2 separate regions of the Homo sapiens genome follow, and region 1 is linked to region 2. The links come from fine-mapping of genetic effects on gene expression. A gene starts in region 2. The other region holds a variant in brackets. All regions are shown on one strand. Distances are from middle to middle. Region 1 holds the start of LOC107986077 (a long non-coding RNA gene). Region 2 holds the start of TRAK1 (trafficking kinesin protein 1).

Region 1 (8,327 bases), 78 kb after region 2:
AAAGAAGGGGGGAAAAGGAGGTGAGAAGCCAGAAGACCCATTCATTCAACAGTGTATCTCTGTCTAACAACAGTGTATCTCTGTCCAAGAATAAAATAAAACCTAAGAACCCACATAAGCCCTTGGGTTCTATCTCCATCTTTTAAAAAGAACATCCTCTTGTCTTTCCCTACAAAAATCACAGTGCATGCCAAATATAGATGAGTTAAATAAATCTGAGTCCATTTTCTTTTGTTTTGTTTTGTTTTTGAGACAGAGTCTCACTCTGTCGCCCAGGCAGGAGTGCAATGGCACAATCTTGGCTCACTGCAACCTCCACCTCCTGGGTTCAAGCAATTCTCCTACCTCAGCCTCCCACGTCGCTGGGATTACACACGCATGCTGCCACGCCCGGCTACTTTTTTTGTGTTTTAGTAGAGACGGGGTTTCACCATGTTGCCCAGGCTGGTCTCGAACTCCTGAGCTCAGGCAATCCACCTGCCTTGGCCTCCCAAAGTGCTAGGATTACAGGTGTGAGCCACCGCAGCCAGTGGTCAGAGTCCATTTTCAAAACCAAGGGTCACAGAATCATATATGTGAAGAGGCTGGTCATGGTACTTTAAAGTTTATCAAACTTCCCGACCATACAGTATTAAGCTCTGGCATGCACAAAAGGCTTTACTGAATATCTGCAACTCTCAGTGAGTTTAAATGACTGTTCGCCCTCCAATGCCTTTCTTACTTGAGCCCCAAAGGGTAAAAAAAGAACTGTCCCTTGCAGAAAAACTGGCCACCTATCTGCTTACTCTCCTTGGCTCTCTTATGAGCTATATGGTGCTACAGAACAATCGCATCTATAAAAACTCCGACAGCTGACGGAGAGGAGAATGCCCAAGGTCTGTTCTCTACCTTGGGAGCACGAAGTCAAGATGGAGAGCCCAGATGGTTAATTCAAGAATCACCAAACAATTACAGAGGCCTACTATATACAAGGTCAGAGGCAGGGACTCAGAATGCAACGACAGGGACTGGGAGTGGTGGCTTGCGCCTATAATCCCAGCACTTTGGGAGGTCATGGCCAGCAGATCACTCGAGGTCAAGAGTTTGAGACCAGCCTGGCCAAAGTGGTGAAACCCCGTCTCTACTAAAAATACAAAAATTAGCTGGGCGTGGTGGCAGGTGCCTGCAATCCCAGCTACTCGGGAGGCTGAGGCCAAAGAATCACTTGAACCTGTGAGGTGGAGGCCGCAGTGAGCCAAGATCGCACCACTGCACTCTAGCCTCGATGACAGAGCGACACTCTGACTCAAAAAGAAAAAAAAAAACAAAAAACCAGAATGCAATGACAGGAACAAAGTCCACTTAAGATGGCAAACCTTAAGGTGTTGTTAGTTTGGAAAGTGAAAGTTTAAGAACTCCATTCAATGTGAATAGTGCTCTATTATTTTTGAAAGCCCTTTTATTTTTATGTTTTTTGTTTTTGTTTTTGTTTTTGAGATGGGGTCTTGCTCTGTCGCCCTGGCTGAAGTGCAGTGGCGGGATCTTGGCTCAATGAAACCTCTGCCTCCCGGATTCAAGCTATTCTCCTGACTCACCCTCCTTAGTAGCTGGGATTACAGGTGCCCATCATCATGCCCAGCTAATTTTTGTATTTTTAGTAGAGACGGGGTTTCACCATGTTGGCCAGGCTGGTCTCGAACTCCTGACCTTAAGTGATCCACCTGCCTCAGCCTCCCAAAATGCTGGGAATACACGCACAAGTCACCATGCCCGGCCCAAAGCTCTTTTATATTACCTGATTTGACCCTCATAATAAACCTATAAAACAATAATTACTATTATATGCTTTATTATCCCTGTTGGGGCTCAAAAAGCTTACCAAATTACAAACCCAATCATGTTGGAAGGAGACCTGAAAACGCTCCCATGTCATTCAGTCAAACTTTTACAGACACCTCCATTTAAAACATTGTCTCCCAGAGAGGGGAGAGCAGGACAGAGAGGTTAAGTAAGGTCACACAGCCAATAGAGAGGAGTTGGAATTTCAGTCCAGGTTTCCCACTCCAAGACCACAGAGAAGGAGAAGCAACACAGCCAGAGTGGAGACACCCTCAAGCGAGCGCTGGGGATGGGAAACTGGTCCCTGGGGCATCAAACAGGAAACGGCTGGTGCTGGGGCCAAGCTGAAACCCAACTGTTGCCAAACTCGCAGCCCTGAGACAAGGGCTTTAAACCGATTCAGCATCCCCCAGAGCCGGGCTCAGCTTTCCAGCTGGCTTAGGCTACACTGGGCTGGGAACCTCTGTGACAAAGCTGAGGTCCAAGATCAAAGAGCAACCGAGTATGACCATTCCAAACCGAGAGACAGAGGGGAAGGCGCCATCTGTCACTCCAGGTCCAACTCTCCAAACCTACCAGTCAAGCTCCCAGCCTGTTGTCCCTTCACTCAATCTGGGGAGACCCTCCCCAGTGCAGACTGGCTCCAGGGCTAATCAGAGCTTAGTCTGAGCACCTTCCTCTTCGCTGCTCTTGTAGTTGGAAATTGGAAAGGACCCTGGAACTAGACCGTTTCCCTATGGTAACCTCCACTCTCCTTCCAGATAAACAAAAGACCCTCCAGAAAAGGTTACCAGTCCCGAATACACACTCACAGACAGTATTGACAACGTTTACACTTTTGAAGCAAATAAAGTTCCAGTGAAGCATATCAGAAAAAAAAAAAAATCAGCGGTCCAACGACGAATACTCTGAAGGCTCTCAAAGCGGACGCTAATTTCAGTGTCTGAACAAGTGCAGCCACGGGTTCTAAAACAGGCAAGCTTAAAGCGGAAGGGGCACCCAGCACCAGCCTCAAGAGCAGGCCGACTTTTAACATCTTTCCTGAAACACAACTTTACAAAAGAAGAAACGATACAGTTCATTACATTTGTTTTTACCTGCAAGAGCTTGACCTTGGAGACTAGAAAAGAACTTTAAAAATCAGGTCAAGAAAGTGACAAAGTAAACTTGTTAACTCTCAAGGATGCAAAGGAGGGCTCTAAAGGCTCTCTGCTCTCTGACACGCTCAGATGATGTCATTTTCATCAAGTTTTGCGGGTGAGTGGGAATCGGGGTGCTGCCCGCGCTCAGCTCCAGGCTCTTTGAAGGTCGCCTCACTGTCACCTCGGAGTGCCGGAGCGCGGAATCCAGGCCACGCGGCGTGGCCGACACGATGCCCTAGGGGCACTTTTCCGGGCTCCGAGGGCCTCCTGCAGGTGCGGCCGGTGCATTAGGAGGGCTGTCCCCGCAGGGTCCCGGCGCCCGGCCTCTCACGCCGCCACTATCTCACGCGGACACTCCCAGAACACCCGTGTCCTTCCCCAGCCCCTGGGCCCGAGGCGCAGGCGGCGCGGGTGAGCGGACCCCTGGCTTACCCGCAAGAGGTGCACGGAGCGCAACCCGGCAGCAGGCGCGGTGCCGGGGGGCCTCGGTGGGGGCTTCCTCCGCGTCGTTCTCGGCCCGGCCCCGGCCGCCCGGCGGCTTCGGTTCCCTCCGCTGCAGCCGGCCGGGCGGCACGGGGGCACTCGCGGGGGCTCCGCTCTGGCGCCGCCGCCTCCTGCTGCCCGCCTGCCGCTCTGGCGCTCCTGGGCTCGGAGTCCGGGGTTCCGAGACGCGGGGGTCGTCGGGGCGTTCGAGACTCTCGGGGACGCTAAGGCTGCGCTCCGGCTCTCCCGCGCGCGGCCCCACTCTGGGGGACGCCTCGCTTGAGGCGCGCGGGCGTCAAGGGCTCGGGGCGCGCGGGGGCGGCGGCCGGGTGGGCCCCGGGGCGGCGGGCGGGGGCGCTGCTGCGGACGCGGGCACTGTTGCGGGCGCCGCCGCGCGGCCTCTCGCCATGGCTCCCCCGCGAGCGGGCGGCTTGCACCTCCCCTCCGCGCTGCCGTCACCGCCCGACGCGCGCCGAGCCCTCCCCCTTCCCAGCCCCGCCCGCCGCCCCGCGCCGCCACCTGCGGGCCGCCCTCCAGGATGCCCGCCGGCCACGTCCTAGTCGCCTGGAGCCGCGCCCCGCCTTCCTCGCCCGCGGCTGCCCCTGCACTTTTACCCACGCCGTGGGGCACAGAGAAGTATCCGGTAAA[G/T]ACCTGGATCCGGAAAAGCTGATCACATCCCTCCCCGAGCGCTTATTTACTTCTAGCACTTCTCGGGGTCCTTCCAGAGTCAGTCTAAGAGAAGGATGGGACCCCCGCGGCCCGGGGCGCTGATTGTCGTGAACACAGTGGAAGTCCAGGCGTTCTGTTCCTGCAGGGCGGGCTGTCTCCTAGCAAAGCCGCCCTTAGGCTTAAATGGAGGGAGGATGGAGCCGGGGACGGGGGGAAGGCTGGAGGGGATGGAACTGGCTGTTGGACTAAGATGCCACCAAAGGGTGACAGGCAGGGGGCTGGCGGACAGCAGAGAGGGGATCAGGAACCGATCCAGGAAGTAAGAGCTCACAGGCCACTCTATTATGCAAATCACTTGTGGACGGTTTAACAGGGAACAACCCACATGATCTCATTTCCAGTTGAGGCTACTGAGTCTACTTCTTTTCAACCCAGGGGTCATAGAGGACATTGGGAGGACTTGAAGAAGACTCAGACCAGAACCAAAGGTGTAAGGAAACTAAACCCTGCAAAACCTGATTTCTCATACTGGCATAGACTTGACTTGAAGAGATCATCAAGTGTATAGTGAAGATTGGCTCAGGCAAGAATCATCCATGAATGCTTACTCTAGGGGGCTGTTACTGGCTGGCAGATATTTGTCTGGGTTGATGTGTCTCCCCATAGATGGTTTAGACCTGTTAGTAGCAAAAGCGGAAATAGTAACTATACAAAGAGGCAGGCAGACAGCATCTTAACCAGGTGATCAAAATTTACATCACCAATGAGAGCAGATGGATATCATGTCCACATCAGCTATGCAGTATTCCTGGGGACAATGCATAACCTGAATCATGATAGTGAAACATCGGACAAACCCAAAATGAGGAACATCTATTAAAAAGAGGAAGGGTCTGTATTATTCAAAAATGTCAAGGTCATTAAAATCAAAAGAAAGCTTGGGAAATGTTCCAGATTAAAGGGTGCAAAAGAGTCAGGGCAGCTAAATGCCATGCCTGATCCTAGACTGCATCCTGTGCTAGAGGAGGGGAAATACATCACGGACATTCCAGCTGACAAAATCAGAATCCATGTAAGAGATTAAAGTATTGGATCAATGTTAAATGTACTGATGTTGATAACTTCCACTGTAATTATGTACAAGAATATCTAATTCTTGGGAAATACACACTAAAGTATCTTGAAAGGGTAAAGGTCATAATGTATGCAGCTTACCTTCAAATGATTCAGGGGAAAAAAAATCTTGATAGGAAAAAATGATAAAGCCAAGTGGGCAATAAAGGTAAGGTGCATATTATCAGTGAATCAGCATATAGAGTGTACTTGAACATTTCTGTAAGTTTGAACTTATTTCCAAATAAAAAGATTTGGAAAAATCCATCAAGTTGGGGAATGAAGTAAGGTGGAAAGAAAGCAGGTATGATATAAAAGGGCAACACAAGGGATCCTTGTGAATTTGGAACTGTTAAACATCTTGAGTATGGTAGTACAGGTGATAAAATTATCTAGAACTTAATATACACACAAATGAGTACAAGTAAAACTGGGAAAATCTGAATAAGATAGGTAAATTGTATCAATGTCAATATCCTAGTTATGATATCATATTAAGGTTTTGCAAATGTTGTCATTGGGGGAAACTAGGCCAAATATATATATGTGTGTGTGTGTGTGTATTTTTTTTTTCCCAAGACGGAGTTTTGCTCTTGTTGCCCAGCCTGGAGTGCAATGGCACAATCTCAGTTCACTGCAACCTCCACCTCCCAGGTTCAGGGAATTCTCCTGCCTCAGCCTCCTGAGTAGCTGGGATTACAGGCGTGCACCACCATGCCTGGCTAATTTTTGCATTTTTAGTAGGGATGGGGTTTCACCATGTTGGTCAGGCTGGTCTCGAGCTCCTGACCTCAGGTGATCCACCTGCCCCAGCCTCCCAAAGTGCTGGGATTACAGGCATGAGCCACCGCACCTGGCCCAAATATATTATTTCTTAGAAATGAATGTGAATCTACCATTATCTCAATGCAATTTTTAATTACAAAAAAAATCATTTTTAATTACAAAAAAACTGTATGTAAATGGGCATGCCCATCAGGGAGCATGCCAGAGCAGATATGCTGGAGCTCTCATAGTGGATCTAGAATAGACATGGTGCTGTTACCAACAGTGAAGGCTTTCAAGAAAAAAAAAAAATTAGACTATTTGAAGTATAACTGACCGATCAGATTCCTTCCAGTTCTGTAATTTAACAATCCTAGAGCTGGGGGTTCTTTGAGATCATCTAGTCCAACCTACTCATTTTCTGGAAACTGTGGGCAGAAAAGTAGTGTGTGTCCACAGGAGCATCAAATTAGCGGTAGACCCGTTAACTACTGCTTGTCTGCCAAATATGTTCTACTTTCTTTACACCTTTACCAGCTGTCTGTCACTCCCTATATCTATGAGATTCAGTTAAGGCTGGTAGAAAATTTTGAAGTCATTCATTCTTTGGAGTCCCTGATTTGTTCTGTAGTGCCAGATGACAGGCATGTGGATTCTGCCCCTGAGGAGTAGGGACCAGTTTTCCTCTCCTACTCTCAGCTTGGAGGAAGCAGATGGCAGGCGGGGCCCCAGTGACAGCCCCAGTTCTGGGCCTGACTGAGCTGATGAACTACTTGGAGCAGCTGCTGACCTGCTGCTGCTGGAAGCCAGTGGAACAGGAACCTGGGAGGGAAGCAGAATGGATACAAGAAAGGAAAACAGTAATTGCCCTGGTAAGTCCTCCCTTCATCCAGCATGAGGCAGAAGTAGCTGCAACAGAGGCAACTGGCTTCCCTTGAGCCACAGATAGCCACTGTATTCTTTCCTTTTGTTGAATCAAATCGAAATTAATCTATGTTTACTTGCATTTGCCAGGCCCTCGTTAGTAACTGTGGGAAAATACAAAATAGAATATCTGATCCCTACCCATTAGGAACCCAGAATGCATCCAGGGACCCAAGGTGGAAATGTTGAAAGTGACCCAACAAAAGCAATTAAAAGGCTAGCTATATTAGCTGGGGTTCCCCCCAAAAGCAACATTGGAGAAGGACTCATGGGCAGATACTTTCTTCTGGAAAATGATCCCGTAGGATATGGGTAGAAAAAGAAATTGGGACCAGAAAGAATGAAACAGGAAAGAAAGAAAGCCTATTGAAGGATATAAAATTTCTGTAAACAACTGGAGCTTAGTCCCACTGAGGCCCCCTGAGGAACTGCGCAGAATGTAAGACAGAGGAGGAAATATTTAGCCACCAGTTCCTATCTCCCATTGGCCAACTTGATGCTGAGTTCAGGAGTGGTGGCTCACACCTGTAATCTCAGCATTTTGGGAGGCCAAGGTGGGTGGATCACTTGAGCCTCAGAGTTCAAGGCCAGCCTAAGCAACATAGCAAGACCCCATCTCTACAAAAGAAAAATTTAAAAATTGGCTATGGAAGTATGAAGGTATATGCCTGTAGTTCCAGTTACTCAAGAGGCTGAAGCAGGAGGATTGCATGAACCCCTGAACTCAAGACTGCAGTGAACTATAACTGAACGATGGCACTGCAGCCTGAGCAACAGAGCAAAACTCTTGTCTCAAAAAAAAAAAAAAAAGTAGATGCTGAGCAAAAAAAGCTAACTAAGATACAACATGGGACATATATAAAAGATGCCTGACACCAGCTTTATTCATTGCTGCAGTCCCAGCACCAACAACAGTGCCTGACTCATAGATGCCCCGTCAATAGATACAGAAAGAATGTCTGGGTGCGGTGGCTCATGCCTGTAATCCCAGCATTTTGGGAGGCCAAGGCAGGCAGATCACTTGAGGAGGATCACTTCAACTTCTGTTGAAGACCAGCCTGGCCAACAGGGTGAAACCCCGTTTCTACTAAAAATACAAAATTAGCTGGCATGGTGGTGCATGTCTGTAATCCCAGCTACTTGGGAGGCTGAGGCAGGAGAATCATTTGAACCCAGGAGGCAGAGGTTGCAGTGAGCAGAGATCATGCAGTTGCACTCCAGCCTGGGCGACAGAACGAGACTCTGTCTCAGAAAAAAAAGAAAAACAAAAAGAAAAAAAAAAAAGGGCGGGACGAGGTGGCTCACACCTGTAATCCTAGCACTGTGGGAGTCCGAGTCGGGCAGATCACCTAAGGTCCGGAGTTCCAGACCGACCTGGTTAACATGGTGAAACCCCGTCTCTACTAAAAATAC
Region 2 (8,265 bases):
TTTGGTCAAGAATGATTCTGAATGTGTCTGTGGTAGTGTTTCTGGGTGAGATGAACATGAATAAGCAGGCTGAGTAAAACAGATGCCTCCTTACTGTGAGTGAAGTGGACCTCATCCAGTCAGCTGGGGTCTGAATAGAGCAAACAGGCTGACCCACCCCCAGGGTCTTCAGGACTGGAACACCAGTTCCCGGGCCTCAATCCTGTCAAGCCTTTGGACTGCAACTATACCATTGGGTCTCCCAGGCCTCCAGCTTGCCAACTGCACATCTTGGACTTGTCAGCCTCCACCATCAAGTAACACAATTCCTTGTAATACATTTCGATATATGTTTCTCCTATTGGCTCTGTTTCTCTAGAGAAACCTAGAACAGGATTTATAACATTATATTTCTTCCAGATCTAGTTATAAAGTTACACCTTTGCCGGGCACTGGGGCTCATACCTATAATTCCAACACTTTGGAAAGCTAAGGTGGTAGGATCACTTGAGGCCAGAAGTTCAAGACCAGCCTGGTCAACACAGCAAGATCCCACTGCTACCAAAAAAAAATAGCCAGGCACGGTGGCTCCAGCCCATAGTCGCAGCTACTTGGGAGGTGGACGTGGGAGAGTCACTTGAGCCCAGGAGTTCAAGATTGCAATACACCATGACTGCACTGCACCACTGCACTCCAGCCTATGTGACAGAGTGAGACTCTGACTCTAAAAGTAAAATAAAGTTTCAGCTCCTGATAGTTTCAGCCTGACTTGCTCAAGTTTTTCAGTGTTTATGAGAGATCAGGGCTCAGTGAAAACAGAGAAGTTTCTGACTCCAAAGTTCCCCCTGGGGCCATGAGTCCCAGACTCACACACCAACCCAGCTGCTCAGCCTGAGCCTGGCATTGGTGCACCCTGAATCCTCTCAGTCACTCCCAGTCAACGTTCCTACAACAGACCTTGGCTGAGCAGGAAGGTGCCGAGGCCCATACCTGGCCACTCTGCCAAAAACTGCCATTTTTTTTTCCTATTATAATTTATTATTTGCCAGCTTCCAAAAATAGTTTGGGGTGAACAAAGATTGATACATTATATACATGAAAAGCTTGTTTCGGCCAGGCACGGCGGCTCACGCCTGTAATCCTAGTACTCTGGGAGGCCTAGGCAGGCGGACTGCCTGAGCTCAGGAGTTTGGGATCAGCCTGGGCAACATGGCAAAACCCTGTCTCTACTAAAAATACAAAAAAATAGCTGGGCGTGGTGGCGCATGCCTGTAATCCCAGCTATTCAGGAGGTTGAGGGATGAGAACTGCTTGAACCTGGGAGGTGGAGGTTGTAGTGAGCCAAGATCATGCCACTGCACTCCAGCCTGGGTGATAGAAGTGAGACTCTGTAAAAAAAAAAAGGAAGGGGAGGGGAGGGGAGGGGAGGGGAGGGGAGGGGAGGGGAGGGAAGGGAAGGGAAGGGGAGAAAAAAGAGAAGAGAGAAGAGAGGGGAGAGAAAAGAGGACAGGAGAGAAAAAAATTTGTTTCAAGTGCAGAACTAAAACCAGTTAGGAGAAGATAAAAATATATCAAATACTTGAGAACTATGGCCCCAAAATCACATGGAAAAAAACTTACAAATGACATTTTAAATAAATTTCACAATTTATGTCAAAAACCTTGTGATAAATATTCTACCTACTCACCTAGTCATAAGGGAACTGAAGGGTAGGAAGATTAGCTGGTGGCCCCCAAATCATTTATAGCATATTTAAAAGGCAGAGGTGAATGTTTCTGTGGTTTTGCAAAGATCAAATGCTCTCTCTAGAAATTAGCATAACAGGGCCCCTTTCTGCATTCCATCTGCAAAAACAAATCAACTGTGAAATAAAGGAGATTCCACTAAGAGAAGGAGAAAAAAAAAAACTTCTAAATTACACATTTAGAAAATATGTGTTATTCCCTACATTGTAATTTACATTTTCTCACTCTGTTGTAAAAGGGATATATATTTCACTGTCCATTCTTTTCTGTTTCATTAATATAGCCAAATAAAAGACCCATTTAGATTATAAATTTTCAATAGAAAACACAAATAAAAATTATACTAGAGAGAAATTGACAAGGCCTTAAATTTAATTAATAAGATGTGTAAGAATTCCATAATGTTTTATTTGAGCATGTTTTCAGAGGATAAGACATCAAGTTTTATGGCTTAAATCAGTGATAGAAAAGGAAAAGATCCTGGGTCAGGCATGGTGGCTCACGCCTGTAATCCCAGCACTTTGGGAGGCCGAGGCAGGGGGATCACTTGAGCCCAGGAATTCAAAACCAGCCTGGGCAATACAGTGAGTCACGAAATAACATAACATAACATAACATAACATAACATAACATAACATAACATAACATAACATAACACAACACAACACAACACAACACAACACAACAAAATAAAAGGAACAAATTCTAAGCCATGGCCCTTTGATGAAGAGTCCTCCCAGGCAGGGCTACTCCTGTTAGCAGATTTTTCCTAGGCAATTCTCACTCGGTTTACAGCTTCTCCTTTACACCCTGGCCCACCTCTGTGCTCTGAGGGCAGGACCAGTCCTCTCTCTGACCCCAGGAATTAACATAAACCCCAGTAAAAACCTGGCCCTGGGTGCACGCTGCTTCAACACACAAAAATAAGTACGATTGCCTCAGTAAGATGCATGTTTGAAGTGTCTTTAGGCTTATTCAATAAGATTTACATGTTTTAAAGCCTAAAACTGACTGGAATGGAACAGGAGCTCACTTCTCTCAGGAATTAACTGTTTTCTGGCCCAGACAGCTCTCAGGAAGCAGCGTGTAGACAGGACAGAAACCAGATGGGTCATCAACCACTGGACTCTGACCAGCTTAGAGGAAGTGAGAGGTGTCAGCCCCACAGCAAGAGACACAAGCCACAGCAGATCTGATTAGCAAGCCCTCCATCACTGGGGTGTGGATCCGAGTCCCAGGCCCAAGCATTTAGTAAAGGACAAAAAAGAAAGGGAGGGTGGAAGAGAGGGAAACGGGAGAGAGGGAGGGAGACAGTCTAACTCTGTCCTTCACCTTCTGAAAAACTCCTTGCTGACCCAAGATACCAGGTTAGCATCTAAGAAATCAGGATAAAGACAAGACATAGGATTAGAGAAATCAGAGCTGGAGAGGCGGAGGAGGCCTTAGAAACCCTGTCCACCCACTGCAGAGAACTGTGAAGGGAAAGGGAGTGGCAGTGCAGGGGGTCTGGGCTCAACTCAGCCCTGTGCTCATGCCCTGCAAGTGTCACTTGCACCTACTGAGCCTGGGCAAGGGGACAAGGGGACCTGGGAACGGGAGATGGGGGGGTGGTGAGGGCAGTAGTTGTGTCTCTGAAGTCCCTTTGCTCTGCCTATCATTCAACATGGCAATTTCTCTACCACATGACCATGAACAACCTCCCAAGCAGCACGGAGCAAGAGAGAGACAGCTTCTCCTGTGGTCTTTTCTCCTTTCCGACCACACCACAAAGAAAACAGACAGCAGACAGACCTGGCAAACAAACTTACCACAGGCGTTTGTCCGAATGAGCTTGCCGTGGCAGAGTCCTGGCAGAGGCTGAGCCCTGACGGGCTGCCCGAATTGAAAAACCAATGCCATGTGCAGACATAAACTCCAAAGGCACTTCAGAGAACAGAGAGAGCCTCCATGAGAGCTCAGCCCCGGCAGTACCTCGCACAGCCACCCTCCCGTGCCTTCCTCAGCAGTTTTCTGAGTTTGCTTGTTAGGGCAAATCCTAAGATTGTGAGCTGTCCTGGAAGCACAATGGGTTATGTAACTCCAGGCAGCCTGGGAACCCTATCAGCTCATCTTGTTAAGCCACCCCAAACAGAAAATGACGCACCCAAAAATGTGATACCTCTAGGTTGGGGGAAGGGGAGTAGCAAGGAGAACGGGGCTTTGTGATGGGCATTCGGTTTTGCCTAAAAATTAAAGTGGAACAAAAAGTCTGCTGTTCATCTCAGGGCTTGCTGGGAACTGGGGGAGGAGTGAATTTATCAAGGGCTGAATGCCAAGCAGTGTCCTGAGACTGCACTTGGCAAAGCCCTGGGAGGCCACAGATGCATTCTTGGGGATAGTCTAGGTCTCTCGGAGAACTTTTTTCCATTTAATGTCTTCCTTTCAATGACTGCCTAATAAAACTTTAATCCGAGCATGTTCTCCATCACCTGACAGCCCATCCCTTAAACGCATAAGAGTGTCTGTGTTTACTCTCCTGTTTACCAAGCCAGTGCTAAACACAACAGCACCGAGCTGTTTCTCAGCTTTCCTCTGGTCCCAACAAAGAACCCCCAAGTCACCACATCCTATAGGGTTTGAAGTTTCAGCACTACATTCTGCCACTTCTTTGTTGTGTTTTTTGTTGTTGCTGTTTCGTTTTGTTTTTTTGAGAGAGTCTCACTCTGTCGCCAAGGCTAGAGTACAGTAGCACTGTGTCAGCTCACTGCAACCTCCATCTCCTAGGTTCAAGCAATTCTGCCTCAGCCTCCCAAGTAGCTGAGATTACAGGCGTCCGTCACCATGCCTGGCTAGTTTTTATATTTTTAGTAGAGACGGGGTTTCACCATGTTGGCCAGGCTGGTCTTGAACTCCTGACCTCAGGTGATCTGCCCGCCTCGGCCTCCCAAAGTGCTGGGATCATAGGCGTGAGCCACCACGCCCAGCTGTGAAGTTTCAGCGGTACATTCTGCCATTTCTTTACCCTCCACTGTCACATTCAAAGAAAGTGAAAGCACTTTAACAGGCTGGATGCTTCCTGGATTTCACTGGTACAGATGCCACTAGAATCCCAAGGATCAATTCATGTGTTTGGACAAATGTAGATGCGGTTGGGTCATCGCCTCCTCCACAAAGCCCTCGTGGTCTTCTCCTGTCCTTTCCCCTCCAAGGTTCAGCCTGGCACCCTCCTTGGTGCCCTACTGTGCTGTGCTTATCATTGTGCTAACCTCGGTGTACAGCCAATTTCTACTCACTCATCTGTCTCCCCAACTAGACTAAATTCTTAGGCAGCAAAGAACCCTTGCCCTGGGGTCCTACAGACCTGGATGCAACTCCTGCCACTCAGGAGTTTCACCAAGGTGCTGAACCTTTCGAGATTTAGACTCTTCACTTACACAAAGAGGATAATAGTACTCACTGCACAAATTGACACAATTGATACACCCAACAAATGTTCACTGAGCGCTGGCCACAGGCAGGCACTACGTTAGTCACTGGATTCAGGAGTGTGCAAAGTAGACACAGAGTTTGCCCTCCGCGACTTTAGTCTACTGCAAGTTTGGGAGACAAAACACAAATACAGTAGTTCAGCAGATGGTTAAGTTTGGGGGAAAAAATTAAACAGGAAAGGGAGATGGGGAAAGGTGAGGCAGATCACTCTGTATTGGGGGGGGGTCACAAAAAGCATCAAATAAAATGTCACTTGGAGAAGGAAGAGGGGGTCATAAGGATATCTGGAGTTAAGGCAATCCAAAGACCCTGAGGCTGGATGTGCCTGGTGAGTTCAAGGTTAAGTGAGGCGGCCAGTGTACCTGGAGCACGGAGGGCACAGAGGAGGCAGGTCAGCGGGGCAAAGAGGGATTCCTGTCATTCAGCCCCTTCCTTACAGGTCTCTATAGAAGGGGAGCTCACTGGAAGTTTGGAGGAGAGTTAAACCATCTGATTGTATTAAAAGCCAACTCTCATGGTTGAGCGGAGAAAGAATTTTAGGGAGGCAAGGGTAGCAGTAAGAGGCCCCACTGGAAGGCCAGTGCGGTCATCCAGGTGTGAGATGGGGGTGGCTGGGACACAGTAAATGCTGGGTAGATTCTGAACATACTCTGAAGATACAGCCAACAGAATTCTTGACAAACTGGGGTATGAATCGCAGAAAGGCAGAATCACAAATGCCTCCAAGGTTCTTGGCCTGAGCAACTAGAATAATGAAAGCACCATTTACAAGGATGGGGAAAACCCTAAGAAAAGCAGGTGCAGGTGGAAACCAGGAGCTCATTTTTGGTCATTTGAGTTTGACATGCCTGTTAGACATCTAAGTGGAAACTCATGTGGAGTCAGTCTGAGACATCTGGCCTTAAGGAGGAAGGGCCAGGCTGAGTACAGAAACCACCGAGTGGCCAGTACAGAAGGCGATTTTAAAACCTGTGTGCTGGGTGAGATCAAGTGCTGCACAGGTGCACACATAAGAGCAAAGAGGCGGAAAGGCTGGGCCCCGGGCCCTTCAACGTTCCCAGGCTTGGGAGAAGAAGAAACGCAGCCACTGAGGCAGAAGAACAGGGAGAGTGTGGGGACCCAGAAGCCAAGTAAAGACTGTACTTCCAGGACACAGGACTTGGCAACAGTGTGAACTACCACTGAAAAGTGAAGTAAGGTGAAGGCAGAGGACAGACCCCTGGACTGAACCAGGCTGTCAGTGTGGTGGGGCATGAGCCTGCCTGCAGTGGACTCCAGAGAGAACAAAAGAAAAACTAGAGTAAGCAAACAGAAGAGCAGAGACACTGGCCTGCGGGAAACACGGGACTGAGAAGGATTCTATTTCCGAAGAGGGAGATCATAGCATGTTTCTGCACTAATAAGAAAGACCCAAGTGCAAGGGGAAAAGAATGATGCAGTAGAGAAAAGGGAGATGTTGGAACTGTGTCCTTCAGGGGGCAGGCAAGTGGGAGAGGGACTCAGTCACAAGCGGAGGACAACACATGTGGGCCACTTAACAAAAAGGGAGAGGAGGTGTGTGGGGGCCTAGCACAGCAGCTAGGCACCAGGCTGGGACCCCCGGCTTTCTCTGTGCCTTTCTGTATCCAGGAAACCCCTGACACACAGGAGGTCCTCAAGGCTTAACTGGTAACACAGAACCAAGAGAAGCTACTGGAAGCCAACTTGCATATATTAAGCTGTCATCAGGCATTACTTCAAACAGACAAACAAAAGCAAACACTGCAGACAAAAATGAGAAATTAAGCAAACTTCTATATGAATGCAACTGGATTGAGCTATAATTTTGCCACTTGCTGCTGTTATGCACACCATCCTACACCATTTCCATTGAGAGCCCTCTCTTGTGCTAGCTTCAAGCACTTGTCTCAATGCTTCCTTGGGGAAAATAAAAAAGCAATAGCTCTACTACTAAGTGCCCGCACAGATGTTAGGTGATTACCACCTGGGACACTGAGAGTTATGACTGACACAGGTATCTGTAAAAATCCATGTCTGTGCAAATCCTGATGGTGTACAAAGGGCACTCCATGTAGTTTTCTGTTTTTGCATCCCACAATGACAGTGCATGTTATTCCCACTACACCTGTCTTATATCTGAAGAAGCTGAGTGCAAAGAGAGAAGGAAGGGTTCAATACACTGAGTGCCTGTGATGGGCCATGCTTGCTGCTCAGGTTTGGATGTTACCATCTTTAACCTTCATGACAATTTAGTGAAATGCTGTCTACCTCTCAGTCAGGATAGTAGGTCAACAACTGACACAAGTTACAAAATGGTTCACTGGCAGAACAGGTTCTGGATTGGAGGTCTCACAATCCGAAAGCTCAGAGTCTTTTGCACTTTGGTGGTTCCTCTCCACATACCTCCCCAAGACCCTCCCATGTGGCTGCATTCCTTCCCTAGTCCTCAGTGACTGAAACCTCCCTCCCTTCCTCCCTGGCAGGGAAAGGGCCCCCATACCAGTAATGGTGCAGGCATCCCGGTACCCTCTGTAGCTGGGAGCATCTTCCACAGCCTCGCTTATGTAGTGTTCCTCAGGGATGCCCAGGCTGCAGGCTAGGACTGCATGGTTGCATGCCTCCGAAGGGGGCACGGAGTTGGCCAAAGTGTCGTCGTGCAGAGCTGTGGCGTCCAGCTTGGCAGGTTTCACGGGGAGGTGCCCACTGCCATCGGGGGCCCCACTGCCAGAGTCTGGGGCAGTTGGGCAGATGGCCCCCGGTAGTTCTGGTGCACCAGCAGGGGCTCCTTATAGGGAATCTATGGGACAATTGAAAGAGAGGGGCACAGTTAGAGTCTATCGATAAACCTGGACAATCTTTAGAAAATGAGGGCCCCGGGATGACGTGCGTTCAGACTGCGAATTCTGAAACGCGTTTCTCTCAAGTCAAGGCATCTCCAATCACATTGCTTAGTTTCAATAAAATAACTGCAGCAAAGTTCCATTCAACTAATCAATATTGACCAAAATGTGGAGCACATGGCTTCATTTGCTTACTGAAACCTGCCTTGAAGCAGCTCTAAGCAAAGAAACA

The links.
Region 1: its variant is fine-mapped to the expression of TRAK1 in monocytes after R848 (Quach 2016, PIP 0.95).

What each region holds. Positions count from the first base shown.
Region 1 is chr3:42,009,183-42,017,509 of GRCh38, reverse strand. It overlaps LOC107986077 (a long non-coding RNA gene), which reads left to right and starts at 3,941. Exons shown (of 2, transcript XR_001740668.2): 1 at 3,941-4,086; 2 at 4,548-5,492. It also overlaps a transcript of TRAK1 not described here. RefSeq lists enhancers at 2,174-2,675, 3,069-3,208, 4,189-4,258 and silencers at 3,399-3,468, 3,529-3,688, 3,729-3,798, 3,889-4,008. The variant G/T (reference allele first, on the strand shown) is at 4,092.
Region 2 is chr3:42,086,829-42,095,093 of GRCh38, reverse strand. TRAK1 (trafficking kinesin protein 1) reads right to left here and starts at 3,737. Exons shown (of 16, transcript NM_001042646.3): 1 at 3,534-3,737. The coding sequence starts at 3,624. RefSeq lists an enhancer at 1-108.